Regions from separate parts of the Homo sapiens genome. Here all the other regions are linked to region 2. Evidence: fine-mapped expression QTL. A gene starts in region 2. Each other region holds a variant in brackets. All regions are shown on one strand. Distances are from middle to middle.

What was found. PIP is the estimated chance that this variant, and not a neighbour inherited with it, causes the effect. A credible set is the group of variants that fine-mapping cannot tell apart.
Region 1: its variant is the best candidate, but not a certain one, in a credible set for the expression of ARPC2 in naive CD4 T cells (Schmiedel 2018, PIP 0.87).
Region 3: its variant is the best candidate, but not a certain one, in a credible set for the expression of ARPC2 in sigmoid colon (GTEx, PIP 0.51).

The regions. Positions count from the first base shown.
Region 1 is chr2:218,430,172-218,438,350 of GRCh38, reverse strand. It overlaps VIL1 (villin 1), which reads right to left. Exons shown (of 20, transcript NM_007127.3): 10 at 7,473-7,626; 11 at 6,394-6,494; 12 at 6,168-6,305; 13 at 5,400-5,558; 14 at 3,646-3,825; 15 at 2,917-3,062; 16 at 1,725-1,869; 17 at 1,039-1,227. Among named protein-coding and RNA genes, the nearest start is that of VIL1, 15 kb to the right of the region's middle. The variant G/TG (reference allele first, on the strand shown) is at 4,154.
Region 2 is chr2:218,212,770-218,220,948 of GRCh38, reverse strand. It overlaps ARPC2 (actin related protein 2/3 complex subunit 2), which reads right to left and starts at 3,760. Exons shown (of 11, transcript NM_152862.3): 1 at 3,695-3,760; 2 at 3,405-3,486. The coding sequence starts at 3,478. LOC101928487 (a long non-coding RNA gene) reads left to right here and starts at 3,763. Exons shown (of 2, transcript XR_923908.2): 1 at 3,763-3,921; 2 at 4,098-4,848. RefSeq lists a silencer at 3,577-3,626 and an enhancer at 3,148-3,751.
Region 3 is chr2:218,190,093-218,198,271 of GRCh38, reverse strand. No RefSeq gene overlaps it. Among named protein-coding and RNA genes, the nearest start is that of ARPC2, 23 kb to the left of the region's middle. The variant G/A (reference allele first, on the strand shown) is at 4,252.

The DNA of each region.
Region 1 (8,179 bases), 220 kb before region 2:
ATGGAGAACCCTGCCTAGGCTATGTAGGCTCTGGGAAATGCAGGGCTCCTGGGGATGGGTGGGGGTCCCCCCAGATAATAGAAGGGAGCCCTGCCACAGAGGAGTGAAGGGACCATGGCTCTGAGGAGTCCCATCTCCATATCCTAGAGCACACTTATGCTGAATGAATGAATGAATGAATGAGTGAATGAGGCTGAGAGAGAAGCCAGCACACACTTGAGGTGAGGGAAAGGTGATAACTAAAGTGGATTGAGAAAACCTGGCATCTCGATATGCTGCCTTGAGTAAAAACTAAAAGCCCATCTAACTGCAGAATTTAAAAAAACAAACCAACAAATTTAAGGAAATTAAGCTTTCTGCTTCCCTAAAGCCATCTGTTGTGACAATTTAGAGCACCCAGAGCCACCAGGCCAGGCTTCACTGTACCTTGGCCTTCTTCCTACCGAAAACCTTTGCTGGAGTTCCATTGTGGGTATCTGCCCCTTGCTTCTATGTGGGGCCAGTTTAGGAAACACCCCGTGGGAGGTTGGCACACCATCCCTCAGGTAAGGACCACACACATGACCCATTTTGCTTAGAATTTAGCACCAGGAAGACATTTGTCAGTCCTTTAGAACCAACGTGTTTCAGCTGGCATGGAGGATCCACCATGTTGCTGCAATGATGAGAACATTCTCACCTCTGCTGCCCAACACAGTAGCCAGCTGCCACATGTGGCTAGTGACAAACTGAATTTTGAACTGTGTTTAATTTTAATTTAAGTAATCAGTACATTTCTTACCTATACTATCCAGCAGCTTTGCTCTAAATGTAGTGCACAAACAAGGCACTATAATTAGCCTTGGTTTTTGATAGACTTCTTCCCTCTCACCAGAGGCCTAATGGCCTTAGTGCAGCCTTACTTTCTATTCTAAGCCTCCTCTAGCCCCTTTCTAAATCAGCAGGTCATATATCCCAAAGAGACAGAATGGCCTGCAGGAATCAGCACTGATCTCCAGGCAGGGCTAGAGAAGGACATGCTGGGATGAGGCCACTCACACTCCACTTGAAGGGATCCCAAGCCAGGAACCAGCCTGTGAAGGTGGGGGGCTCGTGTCCCTGCTTCACCACAATGATGGGGGTCTCAGGGTCACGCCCGCTGGGATGGGTCTTGAGGTATTCCTGTGCAGTGGTTGCTGCGGCCTTCTTCTCCTCCTCGTTGGCATGTTTCCCAATCCAGAAGAAGACCTATTGAGAAACCCAGGGGATCAGTCCATCCTTCCTGTCCTCCCTGGCCCACAGGGCTCTGCCTCAGTTGTCCAACAGTGAAACCCTGACCTTGACCCTGACTCTACCACTACCAGCCAAATGACCTAGGGCAGGCATCATCTGGCCTTGAATTTGTATCTGGGAAATTAGAAGGTTGGACAGATGCCTTGTACTTGGATATTCTGCAAATGTGTGTCTCCCAGACTGTCCAAAGCCCAGGATTCTCAAAAACACTCCTGCTGCCATGTGAAATAAATAGGACTTTGGGAGAGAATACGTTCTTCCCTGCAGCCCCTCTGAGCATGTTCCTCCCCACCTTCCTTCTTTCTTACACTTCTGGTGTTCATACCATTTCCAGGGAGAAATTATGTAAGGGCCAAGAAAACATTGACACTTACCTAACCTTAAAGCCACTCTTTCTTGGCCCTGGGGATTGAGGTGGCTGGGAAGAGGGGTCCCCAGGCCCTTGGTCCTACCTGGTCCCAGACATCTAGTAGGAACACATCATCCTCTTCCAAGTCATCCTGATTGAAGTCAGGGATCTCTGTGGCCAGGAAGCGCCCAGTCTTGTTGGAACACTCAAAGAGCCGGGGGGTGATGACCAGGTTTTCTTCCTGTAGTCTGCAGGATGGAGAGAAGATTGTACTGGCAGAAGGAAGGTGTGGCAAAAGGAGAATTGAGGACACAGAACTCTGAGGAAGGGACTCTGGCATAGAAAGGTCATCTCCAGCAAAATGCTCTATCTTCTGATTGATAAAAGGGTCCCCTCTCATTCCAAGAGTGCTCTGAGGAAGAAATTGTCACTGCTTTCTGGACATGCATTCCAGTGTCTTTTGCAGAGCCTTGTTAGGAAGTTCTTCCTGATATCTTCCCTCCATCCCTCCTACTGCTACTACAGTACATGCCCTTTTGCTTTTGAACTAGGGACTAGTAGATCATGGATATTCTCTAGAAAAACCATTTGAGCCAGTCACCGTGGCCCACACCTGTAATCCTAGCATTTTGGGAGGCTGAGGCAGGTGGATCACCTGAGGTCAGGAGTTCAAGACCAGCCTGGCCAACATGGTGAAACCCTGTCTTTACTAAAAATACAAAAATTAGCCGGGCACGGTGGTGGGCGCCTGTAATCTCAGCTACGCAGGAGGCTGCAGCAGGAGAATTGCTGGAACCTGGGAGGCGGAGGCAGAGGCTGCAGTGAGCTGAGATTGCACCACTGCATTCCAGCCTAGTTGACAGAGCGAGACTCTGTCACAAAAACAAAACAAAACCATTTGAAAGAGGGCTTGTGGCTGGGGCTCCTCAGCATCCCAGGCCTGTGTCAGGACCTAAAAGCAGGCTGGCCTCTGGCATCTTGTTACTGAAAGGCAAACCTCTAGCCCTGCCCCTTGCTTTGAGCTGCCTCCTATGGCCAGGAATTCCCTTTGCCAAGGAAATACCCCACCAGGTCCTGGGCATACTGTAGTGAGCAGCACAGACACAGCCCCTGTGCCAAGAGGCTCCAAGGGTATGGGCTGCCCTTTATTCATCTTGTAGCCCTGGGGGTCTGGCACAGTGCCTGACACACAGAGTCCTCAGTCCATGCCTGCTGTAGGCTCTGGGTGTAGGGATGGAGATGCTGGGCGGCTCCCCCACCTTGGTAACCTGGAGGCGGAGGGACCTGAGAGTTACCTCTTGGTGTTGGCATAGGGGGCCTTCCCACCCAGGGCCATCCAGAAGTTGGCTGGCTCCTGCCCTTCCACCACCACTTGCTTCTCCGTCCGGGAGATGGTGTCAGCAACCATCTTGGCCATCTCCCGCTCGTCCCCGCTACAACCCTAGGAAAAAAAAGAGTTGGCTAATTTCTAGTGCCACCCCTACCTCCACCCTCCTACTACATTCACTGCCCAGAGTTCAGGGGTCAAAGAGGGCTCTCCTGGGTCAGGACCTTGTGTATACAGGCCACACAGGGACAATTCCATGCTTTCTTCTGTCCTTGACACTCCAAAGAATAGCAGAAGAAACTAGAGAGTCTTTTCAAGGTTCGAGAGGGACTCCAAGAGGCTATGCATTCTTCTTACAGAGATCAAAGGAGAGGCAGTGACAGGCTCAGGGTAGTGAGAGAGAGCCCAAGACATAAAGACAGACCAACACAGGGACAGATGGAGGTGGCCAGAGAAACAGAACAAGAGAGACTGACTCCGACAGAGAGGCAGAGAATCTGAGGATGGTCATTGATGAGGCAGAAGGATAGACCCAGAGCTACTGAGGAGGGAGAGACTGGGCTCCAGAGGCGGCTGAGAATTGAGCAGGCACAACTTAGTTGGCCAGGGGTTCCTGCCCTGACCTAGGGCTGCTGCGAAACTGGGGGACTCCCAGGACCCACTTGCGGATGGGGAGGCCTCTAGACCCTGAACACACCTTCCCACACCATAGATAGCAGCAAGACTGGGTCTTGAGGACAAAGACATCATTGGAATTGAGGAAATTGGCCCGCGCTGGGACCTCAAAGGCCTTGGTGTTGTTGGCGCCAGTTCCCTGGACCTGGAACAGCCGTGTGGAGGGCCCGGTCTCCAAGTTGTTAGTTCGGGAGGTGCCTCCCTGCAGGTGAGGGCAGAAGACAGGGAGAGAGAGTCAGGAGTCACTTAGTAAAGAAGATGATGGGGAACAGAGGGGGATAGGGTAGGGCGGGGAGGTTTGCCCCTGAGCTCCTCTGATGCTCCGTCACCAGGTCTTTCTAAAACATTGTTTGCATCACAGCGTTTCTCTTTTCAAAAATGTTCAGTGACTCCCCATTGCTTCTAGCCTAAAGCCCAGCTCCTCAGCTTTGCCTTTGAAGGCCCCACATGACGAAGATGCAAACTGCCTTTGCAGACACTGCTGCCATCAAACCCTCCAGCTAGCTCTGCCAGGCTTTTTTTTTTTTTTT[G/TG]AGACGGAGTTTTGCTCTTGTTCCCCAGGCTGGAGTGCAATGGCACTATCTCAGCTCACTGCACCCTCTGCCTCCTGGGTTCAAGCAATTCTCCTGCCTCAGCCTCCTGGGTAGCTGGGATTGTAGGCACCCACTGCCACGCCCGGCTAATTTTTATATTTTTAGTAGAGACGGGGTTTCTTCATGTTGGTCAGGCTGGTCTCGAACTCCCAACCTCAGGAGATCCGCCCGCCTTGGCCTCCCAAAGTGCTGGGATTACAGTTGTGAGCCACAGCGCCTAGCCTTTTTTTTTTTTTCCTTGAGACGGAGTCTCGCTCTGTTGCCCAGGCTGGAGTGCAATGGTGTGATCCTGACTCAGCGTCTCCCAGGTTCAAGCCATTCTCCTGCCCCAGCCTCCCCAGTAGCTGGGATTACAAGTGTGCACTACCACGTTTGGCTAATTTTTGTATTTTTAGTAGAGACAGAGTTTTGCCATGTTGGCCAGGCTGCTCTCGAACTCCTGACCTCAGGTGATCCACCCACCTCTGCCTCCCAAAGTGCTGGGATTACAGGCGTGAACCACCATGCCTGGCCAGTTCCACCAGGCTTCTGATGTTCCCCAGGGAGCCTCTCCCCCAGGCCCTTGTCCTTGCTGTGCCCCCTGCATTGCATGCCCTCATTTTGAACTACTGACCTCAGGTGATCCACCCACCTCAGCCTCTCAAAGTGCTGGGATTACAGGTGAGAGCCACCGCAACCGGCATTTTTTTTTTTTCTTTTTTTAAAGATGGAGTCTCCCTCTGTTGCCCAGGCTGGAGTGCATTGGCACAATCTCGGCTCACTGCAACCTCCGCCTCCCAGGTTGAAGAGATTCTTCTGCCTCAGCCTCCTGAGTAGCTGAGATTACAGGCACCCACCATCATGCCTGGCTAATTTTTGTATTTTTGTAGAGATGGGGTTTCACCATGTTGGTCAAGCTGGTCTTGAACTCTTGACTTCAGGTGATCCACCCGCCTCAGCCCCCCAAAGTGCTGGGATTGCAGGCGTGAGCCACCATGCCCGGCCCAATTACACGTATTTCTAAAGTAACCAAATGGGTTGTTTCTATTACCAGTTCCACATAGGTGATAGAACCTCCAGGGTAGTCTCCTATGAAGAATGGGCTTCACCTCAAGCCCTGCTCCCACCACCCATCCCCTTCTCCATCTCCCGGATGCCTGTCTTGCCACAGTGGTTACTGCCAGACACCTCAGTTCAGCAGCCACACCTGGTAGACCACCATGCGTCCCTTGAAGATGGACATAAGATGAGGTGGCTCCTTGCCCATTGGGACCCGGATCTGGACTGGTTCACCATTGTACTTCTGGTCCAGGATGACGGCTTGATAAGCTGATGCTGTAATTTCATCTTGGCTGGCCTGGCTGCCCTGGGGATGAGCAGGAGGGAGTGAGTGGGATTGGGTCAGCCCCCAATTCTGACCCCATCCTCAGCCTCAGCAACAACTCCATCCTCAAGTCTGAACTGGTCCTAAACCCAATTGTCTTCCCCACCAAACTCCACTGTGAAACAGCCAAAACCCCAATCTGAACCATACCTCAGTTCTGATCTCAACCTCAAACCTAATTCTTTCCCAGACCCAGCCCAGCCCTGACCTACCTGCAACCCCAGCCTTAACCCCAAACCTCCTCCTTTCCTTTCTGCTCCTTCTTCAGGGAGACATCACAGGCACCACACCACTCAGTCCTAGACACACTCCCTGCTCCCTCGCATCTAGACACAAAAACCCATGGGCAGAGCAGGTGACAAGAATGTGCAGAAGGCAATGAAAATTGGAAGGGAGACTCAGAGAACCAAAAGGAAAAGGGCTGTGAATGGGGGTACTAGCGGGACCTCATAGCCAAAGCAGTCCTTCTTGAAGGGGTGAGCACCCCATCCCCAGAGGTATTCAACCCAAGGGTGATGGCCACTTAGCAGGAGTATGTACAAGGCAGAGCTAAGCCGGCTGTGCTCTGGGTGGGACGTGGCGGGACCTGACCTGCCAAACGTAGAGCAGGTAATGCTGCTTCTCGCCGATGAGGTAGGTGTAGAGCAGCAGGTAGCAGTCGCCCCCATAGAAGTGGCCTAGCCACTTGGAATCCACAGGTACCAGCTCTAGGTTCTCAATGCGCCACACCTAGGGCCAGTATCAGGCCAGGGTGAGGTCCAGGACAGGCTCCACCATTCCTGCTCCACCCAGCACGGGCCTCTCTGCCCTCACATACCTGCACTTCCCCACTCCCATCATCTACCATCTTCTGCTGGGCAGCCACCTGAGGCTTGACATGCATGGATGTGGCATCGAACTTCACCTGTTCCACTTTGGCTAGAGTGGGGGAAATCATGAAACCAACTGTCACCAGCTGAGGTCTCCCAGGTCCTCACAACAGCCCTGAATGGTGGCTACAATTCTTAGACTCATTTTCAGATGAGGAAACCGAGGCAAGAGAGATTCAGTAGCTTACCTGGTTGCACAGAATGTGGCAGAGCTACAATAGAGAACCACATCTCCCTCCCTCTAAAACTCCTGCTCCCAGGGAGCCAGGAGAGGCATAAGAGCAAGGCTTTAGCTTTGTTGATCTACGTCCTGACCCCTGCAGCATTCAGACTTCAAGCCTTGACCTTGTCTCCCAGCTCAATAGGGAGCTGTGCAATGTTGGGGGCTGTACACTATTACTTGTCCTCTCCTAGGTGCTGGGCACCGAGCTTGCCCTCAGCAAATACTGGCTGGTAAGAGACTGAAGCTGTTCGGTTTTCAGGGAGGCCCAACCCCATCCCAAATGAAATATCACATCACTGACAGCTCCCCTTTTTTTTTTTTTTTTTTTTTTGAGATGGAGTTTCGCTCTTGTTGCCCAGGCTGGAGTGCAATGGCATGATCTTGGCTCACTGCAGCCTCTGCCTCCTGAATTCAAGCGATTCTCCAGCCTCAGCCTTCTGAGTAGCTGGGGTTACAGGCATGCACCACCATGCTTGGCTAATTTATTAGTTCTTTTTTTCAGTAGAGACGGGGTTTCACCATGTTAGGCTAATCTCAAACTCCTGACCTCAGGTGATCCACCCGCCTCAGCCTCCCAAAGTGCTGGGATTACAGGCATGTGCCACCATGCCCAGCCCTCTCAGCTCCCTTTTTGTGACAACTAGAGTTTGTCCACGTCCCCATCTGCTAGGACAAGCCCAGAGCCAGCGTAAAAGTCTTCGTTGAAGATGCACGTCAGGGAAGGAGGGTGGGTGGTGGACCAAGTGGCTCTCCTGGCCCAGCTCCTGGATCCTGGCTCCCTCACTGCCCCCGCCTGGCCCTCACCCACGGAGCCCACAGTGTGGGTTTTGCCTAGGCCTGAGGTCCGGTTGGACGCTGTCCACTTCTGGAAGAGCTGCTGAAAGACGGCCGACTCAGCCCCATCATTCTGCACCTCCACCTGTGTGCTTGGTGGGTACTGCTTGGCTTTGATGAAGTTCTGGAAGAGAAAGGGGTGGCTGGAAGCTATGCACCTCCCCTAGTCCCCACTCCCAATGCAAGCCAAAACCTAGCTCTAACCTAACCAGATCCACCATCAGATCTACCCCGGCACCAAAACTGAACCCAAACCCAATCCCAATGCTAATCCCCAACCTAACCCTACTCTGACCCCAGCCTCAAGGTCAAATCTGATACCGCCTGAAACCTAACACTGGCCTCAAGACTCACTCTGACCTCAGCTTCAAATCTAATACCGAAACACAACTCTGACCCCAATCCCAAAGCCAAATCTAACGCCTAATGTGACCCTACCTCAATGCTAATCCTAATGCCCAGTCCCCAATCCAACACTGGCCCCAAGCCAGTTAGGGTTACGACTCCAGCCCCAGCAATGACCCCAAACTCTGACTTGGCCCTGGTCTGAGCTGACCCAATCCCCTTTTGTAGGAAGCCAGCCTCCCTCCATTTCTCCTTCCCTTCTCCAAACTCAGCTCAGGTGCAGGGAGGTGAGAGCCCACATCCTGAGGTGGCCCCAGGGTTGCCTGGTGGTT
Region 2 (8,179 bases):
GTGTTGGGCATAGCTTTTAAGTCAGTCACATTCTCTTAGTTTGTGGGCTGCTGGGAAGACAATTTACCAATAATTATTATTTTGTGACAATCTATGAGTTGTTTCAATAAGCCACTTCCCAGAAGTGTGTAGGAAAAAATTAAAAAGCAATCTGTTTGGAATGAACCTTAGGCTTTGTCAAACTGCCTCCAAATTAAAAGGTTATGATCAAATGTATTCTTAAACAGTTTAGATGACAACACTGCTTTACCCAAAAGAAAGCTGATACTTTTAGTAGGAGGCCACTGGTGAGAAGATCCAGCAGGATGATCTGAGAGGAATCATTAAAAAAAAAAAAAATCAACTTCAAATGGAAAATTAATGCAACTATATTCTGAAGTATATGCCACAGAACTATTTTTAAGACCATCTCATGCTTTCATTTTCAGAAGCTGGAACAGTGCTAATAGAACTTTGCAATAATGGAAATGTTCCATGTCTGTGCTAAATACAACAGCTACCAGCCACATGTGGCAAATGAGCACCAGAAATGTGGCTAGTGTGACCGAGGAACTCAATTTTATTTCAACTTAATTTTTACTTAAATTTAGCCAGCCACTTTGTATGGCTATCTTATTGGACATCACAGAGATGGAAGATGCACTCTGGAAAAGGCTGCTCCGAACTGTAATTTCCCCCATCGGTTTATTCTGAGAAGTGCAAAAAGTAGGGTGGAGCTGACCTCTCCTAGCAGGTTCCCACACCAGCAAAGCCTTTCAAATCTCCAGGGTTTCTCCTCCAAACTACTCCCTTTAATGTCTTTCTCTGATCTCCACCCCAACACCTTTCACCCCTTAGCACCTCCCTAACTTGGCTAATAGGCTCTCAGAGAGGCCCCTTTTTTTCTGTTGCTGCCTGGGCTGAGCACTGGTAGAATCCCATACATGTTTATGATAACCACACTAGGCAAACTCTGCTGTAAGTTCTGGAATAGGCATGCACCTTGCCTTACCTTACTGGAATGTCTGATAATTTACATTTGCTTCATTCGGGCTTCTACTGGGTGATACATCTGTAATCCCAGGAGAGCCCTGCCTACCAGGCACAATATCATGGTCTCTTTTTTTTTAAAGATTTTCAAAGTTTCAAATTTTCAGCAGAATGTTTTGAGCCTGCTTATTGAAAACCACATCTCAAAGGGGGAGATGGGCCAGAATAAAAGCCTAGATTTATACACACATACACCCGCACATGTGCACAAGCATACACACCAGTGCACCCCCTATACAGCTTCCCTACAATGCATATCTTTGTAAAAAATGTCCTGAGGAAAGGAGCAGTGCTGTAATCCCAGCACTTTGGGAGGCCGAGGCGGGCGGGTCACTTGAGGCCAGGAGTTTGAGACCAGCCTGGCCAACATGGTGAAACCCCATCTCTACTAAAAATACAAATATTAGCCAGGTGTGGTAGCACGTGCTTGTAATCCCAGCTACTTGGGAAGCCGAGACATGAGACTCACTTGAGCCTGGGAGGGCGAGGTTGCAGTGAGCAGAGATCGCGCCACTGCATTCCAGCCAGTGAGAGACTCTGTCTCGGAAAAAAAAAAAAAAGTCCTGGAAGTTCTAACTTATGTCTTCCAGACTTGAGGGCCTATTTAATCCCTCCGAAATGGTTAGCTTCTCTTTTTAAGAATAATTTTCTAAAAGAAAAAGAAAGAACTGAAGTTCCGAATAATGGGCCACATTTTGGAATCACAAGTCATTAATACACAAATAGATGAGAATGTACTCCTATGTTAAAAGACATGCCTCTACTTGAAAATACACAGCCATTTATCTTGTAGATCAGCTTATAACCGCCCAGGTCTCATTCTTTGCTAGTCTGGACCTGAGAATGCATTAAGATCAGTTATGAAAATGCAGAAGTTAATTCAACTTCCTCCTATGTGTTACACTGCTCAGAAAAAAGTATACAGCAATCACCCAAAATAAGACTCTGGGCTGATTCATTTGAATATTTAAAATGCAAAGAAACTGGTAAGAGAGGCTAAGACAAGAAAGAAGCAAGTCAGCCTCAAATATAACCAACTGCAGCCCCTGGCAGGAAACAGTACTGCTCACTACACGTATTACTTCAAGGAAAGTAGTGCTTTGTTTTACAGATAAAATCTGTGGCCTTATAAAGGAGACAGGACATACTATATATTCAATTTAAATGGCAGTTAATACTTTCTAATGCCTCCAAGCCACAAGTACATTATGACCACTTAAAAATTCCCCTCTACCAATCTTCTCCCATCTGTGGATCTGCAAGCACTTTCCTATTACTAGTTCCCAGTTCACCAGAAACGGTCTGCACTTATTAACTGTGAAACCCAGATGTGAAGCCCCATGCTCATACATAGGGAAATGAGGCAAAGGGACTGGCCACAGGCCACCAAAAATTAGAACCCAAAATCCTTAGCTCATGTTTTAAATATTATACTAGAAAAGCAAAGCAGCTTTGGAGGAGCAGATTGTCTTCTACTGATTCTTGTGTTTGGCAGAGAGGCTGCCTTGGAAAGATGCCCTAAGCCCATCTTTTAAAAAGTCCAATCGTAAAGACAGGTTATCTAAGAACTTTATAGATTCTGGAGTCTTTGAAGTGTGTAACTGGGCCAGGGCTACCACAGAAGAAATCACAGACCTAGGGTCTTGATGTAAGAATTTACAAGATAACCAGATAAAGGCTAGTGGGTGAGGAGAGAGCATTAGAACCTCAAAGGAGAGATAAGGAAGGGGTGTGGAGCGAGGGACAATTGGCTTTGCTTTAAAAATATGTAACAAAATGGCCCAGTGTCTCTCACAGAAGGGTTCGGGGAAGGGAAACCAGAGATCGCGTTTTTCCGGCTCTAAGACTGGGTCGGCTTTTAGTCTTCTCTTCTGCTCCTTTTAAAGGAGATGGGGGTGGGGAACGAGAATGCTGGTGGCGATGTGGGCCTGCATCTCCTTCCCTCCTCCAGTCCTGGGAATTCCTGAAAACTCCTTCCAACCCAATTCCAAACAGGCTCTCTCTGGGTTCAGAACAATGCCGGGGAATTTCACGCAGGGAAGGGGTCCCCTTCTCGCCCCAGAGGGCAGGGGGCTACTCCGGAGCGAGTTCCGGCTCCAGGGTCCCCCACGTCCCACAGGTCTCCTGCCCTTTGGCACGCACAGCCCTCACCACTCGCTGCTTCCGCATCCCTCCTCTGAGCCTCTCCCCACGCATCTCTGCCCCTCGCCCGGCCGCGCCCAATCGCCTCCCACGTCTACCCCGCTGGGGCAGCCCCTACACCCTGCCAGGCACCCCATTTCTCTCCTCCAGGTCTGGGGGACTGGACAACATTGGGGATTAGCTGGGGTCAACTCTGCTTCCCCCGCCACCCCCGGCCCCGGGCGCGCGCTCACCCGGCGGCCGCGTTCTCGAACTTGAGCGCGAGCGTCTCCTCGATGATGCGGTTGTTCACCTCCAGCAGGATCATGGCGGCGGCTGCCCCCAGGGGAAGGAGAAACAAGGGCCGGTGAGGGTGGGTAAGGGAGGCAAGGACGGAGGGAGCGGCCCTGCTGCCCCCTGAGTGGGGCTGGGTGGGGTAGGAGGTTAGGGGAGAAGGGGAGAGGGGCCGGGGTGGAGGGAAGGGTAAGACGAACGCGCTGGCCCACGCACGCAGACTGTGGAGACACCCACCCACCCAACCGACCTGGCCCCCGAAGCCTGAACCCGCCTGCCGAGCCGCCGCCGCCGCCGCCACTGCCGCTTCACCGACAAGCCCGGTCCCCGCCCAGCCCCCGGCTCTAGCCGGCCACTTCCGCTCTCACACCCACTTCCGCTCGCCGCCTGGACGCGCGGCCCCGCGGCGCCATTTCCGCTTCAACCACTCGTGAACGCGAGCGCAGGCGCGCCGGAGGAAACGGAGGCTGCGCTTGCGTATGTGTGATGCCGCCGCCCCACCGTCTACTTTCCCACCGACCCCGCTTACGTCTACCGCCTACCAGTGCGTCCCCCGCGGAGCTGTCATTCCCCGAGGCTTGCCTGACTGTTCAGCTTCTCTCTCCCGCTTGTCCCAGAGATCCAACTCCATTCTTCCGGTCTTGTCATTTCAGAAACCTCGCAAGAAGCTCGCCCTTGTCGTCTCCCAGCGGGCTTCTTAGCTCCCAGCTTGTTTGATGGGGGTGCCTCTTTTTCTTTCCAGGTATAGCTGTCCAGCGACACCATCATGCATTCATTTCTCCAACAAACATTTTCATGGGCTCTTGCTCTATACTGGGGATGTAGTGGTAAATGAAATGGACGAGGCCCTGCCCTCGTGGAACTTACAGTCTGGCAAAGGAAACAGACAATAAAATTCTCAGTTGTCTAAGGAGGCAGAGATGCATGGGGAGAGGATCAGAGTAGGGATGCGGAAGCAGCGAGTGGTCAGGAGTGTGCGTGCCAAAAGGCAGGAGACCTGTGGGACGTGGGGGCAGCTGGGGCCGGAACTTGCGCTGGAGGAACACCCCTTGCCTGCTGGGGCGAGAAGAGGACCCTTTCCTTGGGTGAAATTCCCCATATTGTTAAAAGGACAATTAAAGAAATGAAAGAGAGGTCACCTGGGTGAATAGGCAACTTAGATGGGCCTCCCTGTGTTCCTGTCATGCCTCCAATTCTGCGTCCAGGTGTCCGGAACACATTTTTTTCTGCCTTTGAAACCTTCCAGTACCTCTGGCAGAGATATACCATACCCTCCTTGTTACCTGCGTGCGGAATCTTAACTCATCGTTGTGCTACATCTGCACCTTCTGCCTTTGTGCCTTGTTTTGTGTTTTCCCTCCTCCGGGGAGAATATAATAAACTTAGCTGAGTCCGTTCTACATACAAGGAAATAATTTATTTTCTGCTATGTGTTTGGGGATGGGGATAAAAAAATGAACAAGAAACTAGCTCCTATCATTAAGGCACAGATAGCCCTTTGAAACATTACTTAACGGGCTATGGATAAGCTTCAGGATATTGCTGATCCCCTAAAATTATACGCTAACTTAAATTTTTTTTTTTTTGAGACAGAGTCTTGCACTCTTGCCCAGGCTGGAGTGCAATGGCATGATCTCGGCTCACTGCAACCTCTGCCTCCCCGGTTCAAGCGATTCTCCTGCCTCAGCCTCCCAAATAGCTGGGATTAAAGGTGCCTGCCACCATGCCCTTTTAATGTTTTGTATTTTTAGTAGAGACGGGGTTTCACTATGTTGGTCAGGCTGGTCTCGAACTCCTGACATCATGATCCTCCTGCCTCGACCTCCCAAAGTGCTGGGATTACAGGCGTGAGCCACCATGCCCGGCCTTTTTTTTTTTTTTTTTTTAATTTGAGATGGTGTCTCACTCTTGTCACCCAAGCTGGAGTGACGTTGCTATCTCTGCTCACTGCCCGCCTCCCGAGCTCAGGTGATCCTCCTGCCTCGGCCTGCCAAATAGCTGGGACTATAGACATGCACCACCAAGCTGGGCTAATTTCTGTATATTTTGTAGAGACGGGGTTTGGCCGTATTGGGCACGCTGGTCTCAAACTCCTGGGTTCAAGTGATCCACCTGCCTTAGCCTCCTAAAGTGCTGGGATTACAGGCGTGAGCCACCATGCCCGACCGATAAGCTAGCTTTGTAACATTAATGACTATTGAACTAAAATAATGTTTATAAATTGTTTAAAATATGTATGCTTATAATACTAAAAGGCTTGTAATGAAAAAAGCAGTTCCCTGTCCTACTCTTTGGAGGCAATATGCTCAACTCTTTCACAAATTCATCCTGATATTTACCTTCATAATCCCTTTCTTTCTTTCTTTCTTTCTTTCTTTCTTTCTTTCTTTCTTTCTTTCTCTCTCTGTCTTTTTCTTTCTTTCTTTCTTTCTGATAGGGTTTCACTTTGTTACTTAGGCTGGTGTGCAGTGGCACACTCTTGGCTCACTGAAGCCCCGATTTCCCTGGGCCCAAGCAATCCTCCGGCCTCAGACCCCAACTAGCTGGGACTACAGGTGGCCACCAATATGTCCAGCTAATTTTTGTATTTTTAGTAGAGACAGGGTTTCACCGTGTTGCTTCGGCTGGCCTCGAACCCCTGAACTCAAGCGATCCGCCTGCCTTAGCCTCCTAAAGTGCTAGGATTACAAGTGTGAGTCACCGTGCCCGGCCTACCTTCATGTTTCTAAGTAAATGTTTATACCATTATTTTTTGGTTTGTGAATTTTTAGCATTATGTGTTGACTTCCTGACACGGTAGATAAGAACTTGACTCTATCACTTCTGCTTCCCACCATATATAGCTGCGTAATAACTTTTGGTAAAACCAATAATCTGCACCTAGCTGTATTAAAATTATTATGTATGCAAATATTGTTTACTGATGAGCCAAGAAATGCACTATAATCATGACTTCTAGTTTACATGGCCCTTCATTTTTCTTAGGGTTAATTATTGCCTTTTTTCTCTCATCTGTCTGATTTTCTGTAAACAGTATTTACAGTTGGTTTTTCCCCTCAAATGCTCTAAGACTATCAAAAAGTCTAGCAATAATGTTTTCCATATACTCAATATATAAGTTCCACTTTTTCTTTGGAGTTTTTGTCCCAGAGCCTTCCTTCCTCTTATTTCAATCTGGACTGGCTGCTCGCTAGACTTGCTGTACAGTTGTCATTCTGGAATTTTCCTTCATTGTTGTTCTGGGGTGGTTTTGCCCATTTCCTGGATCCCATGTCTTCCTCTTGGTTTACTTCCTTGTTTTGCTAAAGCATCTCCTCTAATAACTTCCTAAGAAAGGGAGATGGGGGATATATGTTGTTAGAATCTTTGCATATTTGAAAATATGTTACTTCTATTTAACACTTGATGTGTTGTTGGGCTAGATATTCAAGTTTGAAAATAATTTTCCCTTTTTTTTTGAAGGTATACTACATTTTCTTTTTTATTTATTTATTTTTTTATTATTATTATACTTTAAGATTTAGGGTACATGTGCACAATGTGCAGGTTAGTTACATATGTATACATATGCCATGCTGGTGTGCTGCACCCATTAACTCGTCATTTAGCATTAGGTATATCTCCTAATGCTATCCCTCCCCCCTCCCCCCACCCCACAACAGTCCCCAGAGTGTGATGTTCCCCTTCCTGTGTCCATGTGTTCTCACTGTTCAATTCCCATCTATGAGTGAGAACATGCAGTGTTTGTTCTTTTGTCCTTGTGATAGTTTACTGAGAATGATGATTTCCAATTTCATCCATGTCCCTACAAAGGACACGAACTCATCATTTTTTATGGCTGCATAGTATTCCATGGTATATATGTGCCACATTTTCTTAATCCAGTCTATCATTGTTGGACATTTGGGTTGGTTCCAAGTCTTTGCTATTGTGAATAGTGCCGCGATAAACATGTGTGCATGTGTCTTTATAGCAGCATGATTTATAGTCCTTTGGGTATATACCCAGTAATGGGATGGCTGGGTCAAGTGGTATTTCTAGTTCTAGATCCCTGAGGAATCGCCACACTGACTTCCACAATGGTTGGACTAGTTTATAGTCCCACCAACAGCGTAAAAGTGTTCCTATTTCTCCACGTCCTCTCTAGCACCTGTTGTTTCCTGACTTTTTAATGATGGTATACTACATTTTCTTACACCTTCTAGGGTTGCTATTAAAAAAGTATAATTCCTATTCATGTTTCTGATCCTTTTGTCTGTTACATCTCCCCCATCTGTGGAAGCCTTAGGATTCTCTCTTTAACTTGTTGGTTAGAAATTTTAGAATGATTTGCTTTATTGTACCACTTTCTTAATTTGTTGTACTGAGCACTGATTCAAAATAGAAATTCATAGAGCTGAGCATGGTGGCTCATGCCTGTAATCCCAGTACTTTGGGAGGATAAGCAGGGAAGATTGCTTGAGCCCAGGAGTTTTAGGCTGCAGTGAGCTAGGATCATGACACTGCACTCTAGCCTTTACGACAGAGTCTTAAAGAAAAAACACAAAAAAAGAACCTTCTTTTCATCTTGCAAAACTGAACTCTAAACCAACCCATTGTTTGTTTTTTGTTTTTCTATTTTTGTGGAATATCTTCTTGCATTATCTTCAGCCATTTTAACTTTTTGTTTTGTTTTGTTTTGTTTTTGACACAGGGTATCGCTCTGTTGCCCAGGCTAGAGTGCAGTGGGCAACCT
Region 3 (8,179 bases), 23 kb after region 2:
TAATTCTGTCCAGAATGGCCTTCCTTCCCTCCCTTCTTTTTATTTAGAATGAAAGAGACTTAAGAGGTTTTCATTGCTGACTAGGTGGATGCAAGAGAGAGGGAAAAGTTGGAAAGAAAGAAAGAGAAAGAAAGAAAGGAAAGAAAGGAAAGAAAAAGGAAAGAAAGGAAAGAAAGAAAGAAAGAAAGAAAGAAAGAAAAAAATGAATAGTGTGAGGCTTCTGAAAAATGATGGGGAGATAGACTCTAGGATGCAGGTGTTGGGATTGGGTTTGGAGTGGCCAAGGGACACCAACTTATTTGTGGCAGAAGGAAGGCACGTATGTATGTATGTATGTATGTGTGTGTGTGTGTGTGTGTGTGTGTGTGTCTGTGTGTCTGCGTGTCAGGTGGGGGCAGTGATAATATTGGTTTGGTTTCAGGAAGCAGAGAGAGGCTTAGGTCCGATTGTCTTTTGTTTCTACCTCAGTCCTGGAGGCACTACCTTCTATGTAATAAACTGTTCATATTTGTTGAACAAACGAAAGGGTAAATAAATCCTTAAAGGACAGCATAAATAGCATATCCCTTCCTTAGATTTTCAAAATGAAATCTTCACTTTTGTTATCATACAAATGACACATGCTGTTTGTAAAAAGTTTCAGTAATATAGAAAATTTCTGGCCAGATGTGGTGGCTCACGCCTGTAATCCCAGCACTTTGGGAGGCCGAGGCGGGTGGATCATCTGAGATCAGGAGTTTGAGACCAGCCTGGCCAACATGGAGAAACCCTGTCTCTACTAAAAATACAAAATTAACTGGGCATGGTGGAACATGCCTGTAATCCCAGCTACTTGGGAGGCTGAGGCAGGAGAACCACTTGAACCCAGGAGGCAGAGGTTGCGGTGAGCCGAGATCCTGCCATTGCACTCCAGCCTGGGCAACAAGAGCGAAACTTCGTCTCAAAAAAAAAGAAAAAGAAAAAAGAAAAAAGATAAAAGAAAATTTCCCTCAAATTCTAACCTGCAGGGATAACAACTGTTAAGTGTCAGCCTTACCAGTAGGTTATATATTAAACAAAAGAGGATCACTTGATATGTGGAACTGTGTAAGCTGTTTTTCTCATGTGAACATTTATGTGCTTTGTGTCAATATGTAAAGATGTTCTTTATCTTTTATAACACCTGCCTGGTCTCCATAACACCTCCGAGTCTCATAAATTTATTTAACCAAAACCCTGTTGATGGGCATTCAGGCTGTTTCTAACTTTTCAGTACAATAACCCTTCTTGTTCACACAACTTTGCACCGTGCACCATTCTTTTCTTAAATTCCTAGAAGAGGGCAACATGCCTGCGCATTTCAACTTTTGATACTTATCTTCCAAGTTTGCCTGCTGAAGCCAGTTTAGGCTTCCATCAACAGAATGGAAGTGCACCTGTTTCTGTCCCGCCCTTGCCAACAACTGGCTACTAGAAATCTTTTTAATTGTCTCCATCTAAGTGAAAAATGATATCTCATTTTATTTATTATTTATTTTTAATTTAATTTTTTTTTGAGACAGAGTTTTGCTCTTGTTGCCCAGGCTGGAGTGCAATGGTGCGATCTAGGCTCACTGCAACCTCTGCATCCTGGGTTCAAGTGATTCTCCTGCTCCAGCCTCCCAGGTAGCTGGGATTACAGGCACCCACCACCACACCCGGATAATTTTTTGTGTTTTTAGTAGAGATGGGGTTTCACTGTGTTGGCCAGGCTGGTCTCGAACTCCTGACCTCAGGTGATCCACTCATCTCAGCCTCCCAAAGTGTTGGGATTATAGGCGTGAGCTACTGTGCTTGGCCAATATCTCATTTTAATTTGCTTTTCTGTAATTATTAGTGAAGTTGAACATCTTGAGTGTGAATTTTGGACATTTTTGTGTCTTCTTTTAAAATAGAGTGCTTCTTTATGCCTTTTACTCATTTTCCTACTGGGTTTGTAATTTTCTTATTATTTCCAAACAATTCACAGTTTAATAATAGTACTTTTTCTCCATCATGTTGCGAATGTTTTCTTTCCATTTTATTGTCTTTTGCTTTGCCATATAGAGATTTTAGTTTCACATTTGTCAATCTTTTTCTTTTCTTATGGCTTTGTCTTTGACATATTGCTAAGAGAGCTGATTACCACATTAAAATTATAAAACATTCTTTCATGTTTTCTCTATTACTTTGTAGTTCAGCTTTTTTCATTAAGTTTTGTTCTTTTCCGCTTTTTAAAATTAGATGGGCAATATGTGGCAATATATGATTATATCCTAATGACATCCTTGAATGTAATCACTTTGTCTCCTCATAATGCCCTCATACACTCTTCAAAAGCAGAGAGGAGAAAAAGAGGGATGATGAGAAATACTTTTTTTTTTTGGTGAACTTAAATAGAACAGCTGATCTTATGCAACTAATAAGTAAATAATTCTGCATTTCCATGAAAAAAAGAATGACTGTTACCCAATTAAGATTTATCCTTTCAGACTCTATTCATGCATTTCTTTCATATGTTCATATGGGTATCTATGCACACATGTAACATAAATGGTATCATTCTATGTATGTTATTTATAATTTGGTTTTTTTTTTGAGATAGAGTCTAGTTGCCCAGGCTGGAGTGCAATGGTGTGATTTTCGCTCGCTGCAACCTCCACCTCCTGGGTTCAAGTGATTCTCCTGCCTCAGCCTCCCTAGTAGCTGCGATTACAGGCATAGGCCACCAAACCTGGCTAATTTTTGTATTTTTAGCAGAGATAGGGTTTCACCACGTTGGCCTGACTGGTCTTAAACTCCTGACCTGAAGTGATCTGCCCGCCTTGGCCTCCCAAAGTGTTGGGATTATAGTCGTGAGCCACCATGCCTGGCCTATAATCTGCTTTTCATTGAACATTAGATAGTTCCTTGTCAGTACATATATATTTACTTCTTCCTTTTCTAACTGACTGCTGCACAATAGTCTATTGTATGAATGTAGCATAGTTTATGGATAAATTCTTTTATATTTAAGGCTTTCGTCCATCTGATTTTTTTTTGCATCTGTGTATGAGTGGAGTGAGTTCGGGATATAACTATTTTTTCCTAATAATTTCCCAACTATCCTATCACCACATGTTGCATAACCTCTCTTTTCTCCACTGACTTCAAATGTTATTGTCATAATTGAATGGACACTAAGCAGAGAATGCTGGGAGGTGGGCGGAGCAAAGTGTTCAGGAACATCTGAAGGAGCTTCCTGCTTTTGCTGGACCAGTGGTAACAGCTGGCCTGGGTATTCCTGTTTCCTCCCCAGCCACATAGCTTTCTCTGCACCAACACAAAAAAGGACTGCCCAGTATTCCCTAATTTATCCCTAGAAATAAATGCAAACATCTTAGTTTTGAAATGAGACCATTTAATACTACTACCACAAATCCTGTGTAAGTCTTACTATTCAGCAGACCTGCTGATCATCTCCATCTCTGTAGAGTTCCTGAGGTGTGTGTGGGCCTAGGTGCCATGTGAGTCGGGGAAGACCCTGCTCCAGAGCCTTCCCTCCTGGGAATTGAGGGTGGGGGCATCAGGGACATAGCTGGAGCTGGGTTTGCTTTTGCAAAGTGTTCCATTGGTAAAAATGGGATGGTTTTGGGTGATTCATGGTGAATCTATTTTAATTTAAATCATTACATATTTATTTTAAGTCACGTTAATAAAAGTGACTCAATTTAAAGAAGAACATGGTATTTGAGCAGGCATGGCAAAAATGCTGAAGGTGGTTTGAGGATGATGGAAGTTTGGAAGACCCCAAATTAGATGATCGTATTATTAATCAAGAGTGCCTTCAGCTGCTAGTAACAAAAATCTAACTCCCAGTGGCTTAAAAACATAGGAGTGAGGTTTTTTTTTTGGTGTTGTAATTTTACACATAAAATTTGCTAATATTGGTTGGATGCTCAGCAATGTCCAGGGCTGACTTCTGTCTTCCCAGTTCTTTTGTCCTTCTCCCGATGGTTCCATGATGGTTGCTGCTGCTCTAGCAGTCACAAGCAAAAGGAAGGAAAAGGGAGAGAGGGTGCCAAGCAGTGTCTTTCTTTCTCTTTGGTAGGAAAAGTGAGGTTTTTCAGAGTTCCCAGCAGTCTTCTCCTTGAGCCTCATTGACCAGAATCATATCCATGGCCACCGTTAGGTGTAAAGAAGGCTGGGAGAGTGGGCAATAGGTTGCATAACTGGCTTAGACCATCCTCATCCAATGGAGGTTCTGTTAGTGAG[G/A]GAGGAAGGGGAATGGATGGTGGATAGACAACTGCCACGTCTGCCATGTGGGAGTGCGTGGACCCATAGAGGGAAGCAGAGATGCAGACCATATGGCCCCAGAGAGAGTGCTGCAGTGGGAGCAGCGTCAGGCTTCCAGCTCCAGTTCCTGAGTGACAAGCTGTCCTGCATTGCCTGTTCTTGCAAGTTGGCGAGATTGCCTGTTGTAATGTTTCCATCAACTCTCTTTTGACTTGAGCTCCTGGGAGTTGGTTTCTGTTCTTTACAGCCTGGAGCAGAGTTTTGGACACTTTTTATTTTATTTCATTTTATTTTATTTTGAGACAGAGTTTCCCTTTTGTTGCCCAGGCTGGAGTGCAGTGGCACGATTTCGGCTCACCGCAACCTCCGCCTCCCGGGTTCAAGCAATTCTCCTGCCTCAGCCTCTGGAGTAGCTGGGATTACAGGCATGCACCACCACGCCCGGCTAATTTTGTATTTTTAGTAGAGATAGGGTTTCTCCATGTTGGTCAGGCTGGTCTCGAACTCCCGACCTCAGGTGATCCGCCTGCCTCGGCCTCCAAGTGCTGGGGTTACAGGCGTGAGCCACTGTGCCCGGCCCTTGGACACATTTTAAAGTTTGTTTTCTCATTTGTTCTTTACAGTAGTTATTATTATCCTTATTTTACAAAGAGGAGAAGGAGGTTCCAAGAGGTTGGGTTAAGTTGGCAAACTCCATGTGACTGTAACCCAGGTTTTCTGACAACTAACACATTTTTCATGCTGTCTTCCTATTTTTAAGATTACCACCTTTAAAGGGGAAGTGTTTGTTCCCTAAATAGCACCAACAGGACAAAGGGAATAAATATATGAGAGACTGAGTTTCTTCTGGGGCCTGTCAATGCTACCCATCAACCCTGTCCCTGGATTAAGTCAAAAGGCAGGAGGCAAAAATCTTGGCTGTGTCATGCACTGGGCTTTAGAGACCTAGGGAATGTTTAGTTTTCTGTTTGTCTATTTCCAAACATTATGTGTGTAATTTATTGTCCCGATTATAACTCAACACGGTTGGAAGATGTGAGCCATTCAAGTCACAGATTTGTGTGAGAAGCACAAGAGAAAATAAGTGCATCTGGGAGCTGCGACCACCAATAGTTTTTATCATTGCCAAGACAACACTTTGAGAGCCAACGTTTTGATCAATTCCTTGTCAAAAATAAATCATGATTTATTTTCCCTAAACTTGCTGTTTCTCTTGCATTCCCTGTCTTGGTAAATGGTACAACTATCTACGCAGTCATGCCAGGCTTTCCTCACCCTGGCACACAACACTTTGACCACATTATGCAGATTCCTTCCCCTAATTACACAGTAACATGCCCCTCCCCCTTTCCCTTTATTCTCCTACGGAGGATGGTGGCCGCAATCTCCTACACTCTGTGTTTTCTTGGTTGTTAGAAAACCTGGGATGCCTGTTAATCATATAGGTTCCCAGGCCCTTCCCCTAGACTCAGCAGGTCTGGAGGGGGCCTTGCAATCTGTATACTTAACAAGTACCCCAGGCAATTCTTCTGAGCAGTGGGTAGCACTAGTACCTGGCTGGCCTTGCTTCAGGTCTCTCTCTTGTCAGTGTAGCCCCATTCTGCTGTAGAAGTATCTTCCTAAACTATGCTGGTGGTTCTTTATCTGCAGCGCAAAATCCAAACTCTTGTAGCATGGCAAACAGGGCATGATTTGGTTCCTACCTCCCTTGCTGGCCTCGTCTACTTCCCTGGTTGCTCATAATACAAACTGCCTGTTAACTCTGAGGATTCCATTGCTCTGTTATTGCTCAATGCCTTTGCACATGCTGTTCTTTGTGCCTAGACAGGCCTCCTTCCCCAGGTCTATCTGGAAAATCCCTATTCATCCTGCAAGACCCAACTCAAGTGTTGCCTCTTTCTGGAAGCTTTTCTTGCTGTCACTGCAGCTTGAACGTACATGTATTATTGCAGTTACCCCTGTGGCTCCGCTATAGCAGAGACTGTGCTTAGCCCACAGGTTCACCTAGTATTTGTAGTAGTAGGTGCTTGTTAAACAGGGTTGAATAAAGGTAGCTTCTCCTATGTGAGAGGAAATGTAGTGAAAGCAAGTAGAGCAATTTTTAGGAAAACAGTATTCCCATCTTTAGCTTGTGAGTCTAAACTCTCAGGAGTTTCTTACTGTGAAAATCAGTCATCATTTTATCTGTGTGCATTTACGAAGTCAATATATTAAACTGTTTAACAGTAGTTAACATATATCTGGTGCCAACCAGTGTGCCAGGAACTTTGCATTCACCATCTCACTTCGTCCTGCAGATGAGGAAACCGAGGCTCAGAGGAGAATTAATTTTCCCAAGGTCACGGCCAGGTGTGGTGGCTCATGCCTATAATCCCAGAACTTTGGGAGGCTGAGGCAGGTGGATCAGCTGAGGTCAGGAGTTCAAGACCAGCCTGGCCAACATGGTGAAACCCCATCTCTACTAAAAATACAAAAATTAGCCAGGCGTGATAGTATGCACCTGTAATCCCAGCTACTTGGGAGGCTGAGGTAGAAGAATCACTTGAACCCAGGAGGCAGAGCTTGTAGTGAGCCGAGATCAGGCCACTGCACTCCAGCCTGGGCGACAGAGTGAGACGCCTTCTCAAAAAAAAAAAAAAAAAAAAAAAAAAAAAATTCCCGAGATTACAAAACTGGTAAATAGTAGAATTGTTACAATGCTATTCTGCTTCTTCCAGAGATTTAGTTAACAATCATTAGGATATGCAGTATGTGTCTAGGATGAAACACTCTAGGTAATGTAAATGAGTGAAGCACTCTGGCCATGAGGCAAGGAGGGGTAGAAAGTGTGGCAACCAGTTACAGGTTAAAGAAGTTGGCCAAGACAATGCCAGCTGATAGCCCCAACATGTTATTGTGAACAATTTTAAACATAAAGAAAAGTTGGGCCTGGCGCAGTGGCTCACGCCTGTAATCCCAATACTTTGGGAGGCCGAGGTGGGTGGATCACCCGAGGTCAGGAGTTTGAGACCAGCCTGACCAACATGGAGAAACGCTGTCTATTAAAAATACAAAAAATTAGCCAGGTGTGGTGGCTCATGCCTGTAATCCCAACTACTCGGGAGGCTGAGGCAGGAGAATTGCTTGAACCCAGGAGGCAGAGGTTGCAGCGAGCTGAGATCACGCCATCGCACTCCAGCCTGGGCAACAAGAGTGAAACTCCATCTCAAAAAAAAAAAAAAAAAAAAAAGAGAAAAGAAAAGTTGACAGAATTTCACTGTCTACTTGTACATCTACTACCTAGATTCTGCCATTAACATTTTACCTGCTTTATCTCATATTTATCCATTATCCATCCCTATAGCCATTAATCTATTCTTTTGGATGTGTTTCAAAGTAACTGTGGACACCAGTATACTTCTCCCTAAATACATCAGTGTGTACATCATTGATTAGAGATCAATATTTGTTTATAGTTTTTTTTTTTTTTTTGAGACGGAGTCTCTGTTGCCCACACTGGAGTGCAGTGGTGCGATCTTGGCTCACTGCAACCTCCGCCTCCCAAATTCAAGTGATTCTCCTGCCTCAGCCTCCCAAGTAGCTGGGATTACAGGCATGCGCCACCATGCCCTGCTAATTTTTGTATTTTTAGTAGAGACGGGGCTTCACCATGTTGGCCAGGCTGGTCTCAAACTCCTGACCTCAAGTGATCCTCCTACCTTGGCCTCCTAAAGTGCTAGGATTACAGGCGTGAGCCACTGCACCTGGCCTTTAGTGTTTTCTTTTGATGTAAAATTTGTAGACAATGAAGTGCACAAATCTTAAGTGTATATTCACTAAGTTTCAACTAATAGGTGCCCCTGTGTAATCCCAATGCCCATCAATATAGAAAACATTACCATCATTCCTAAAAATCCTCTCATGTCCC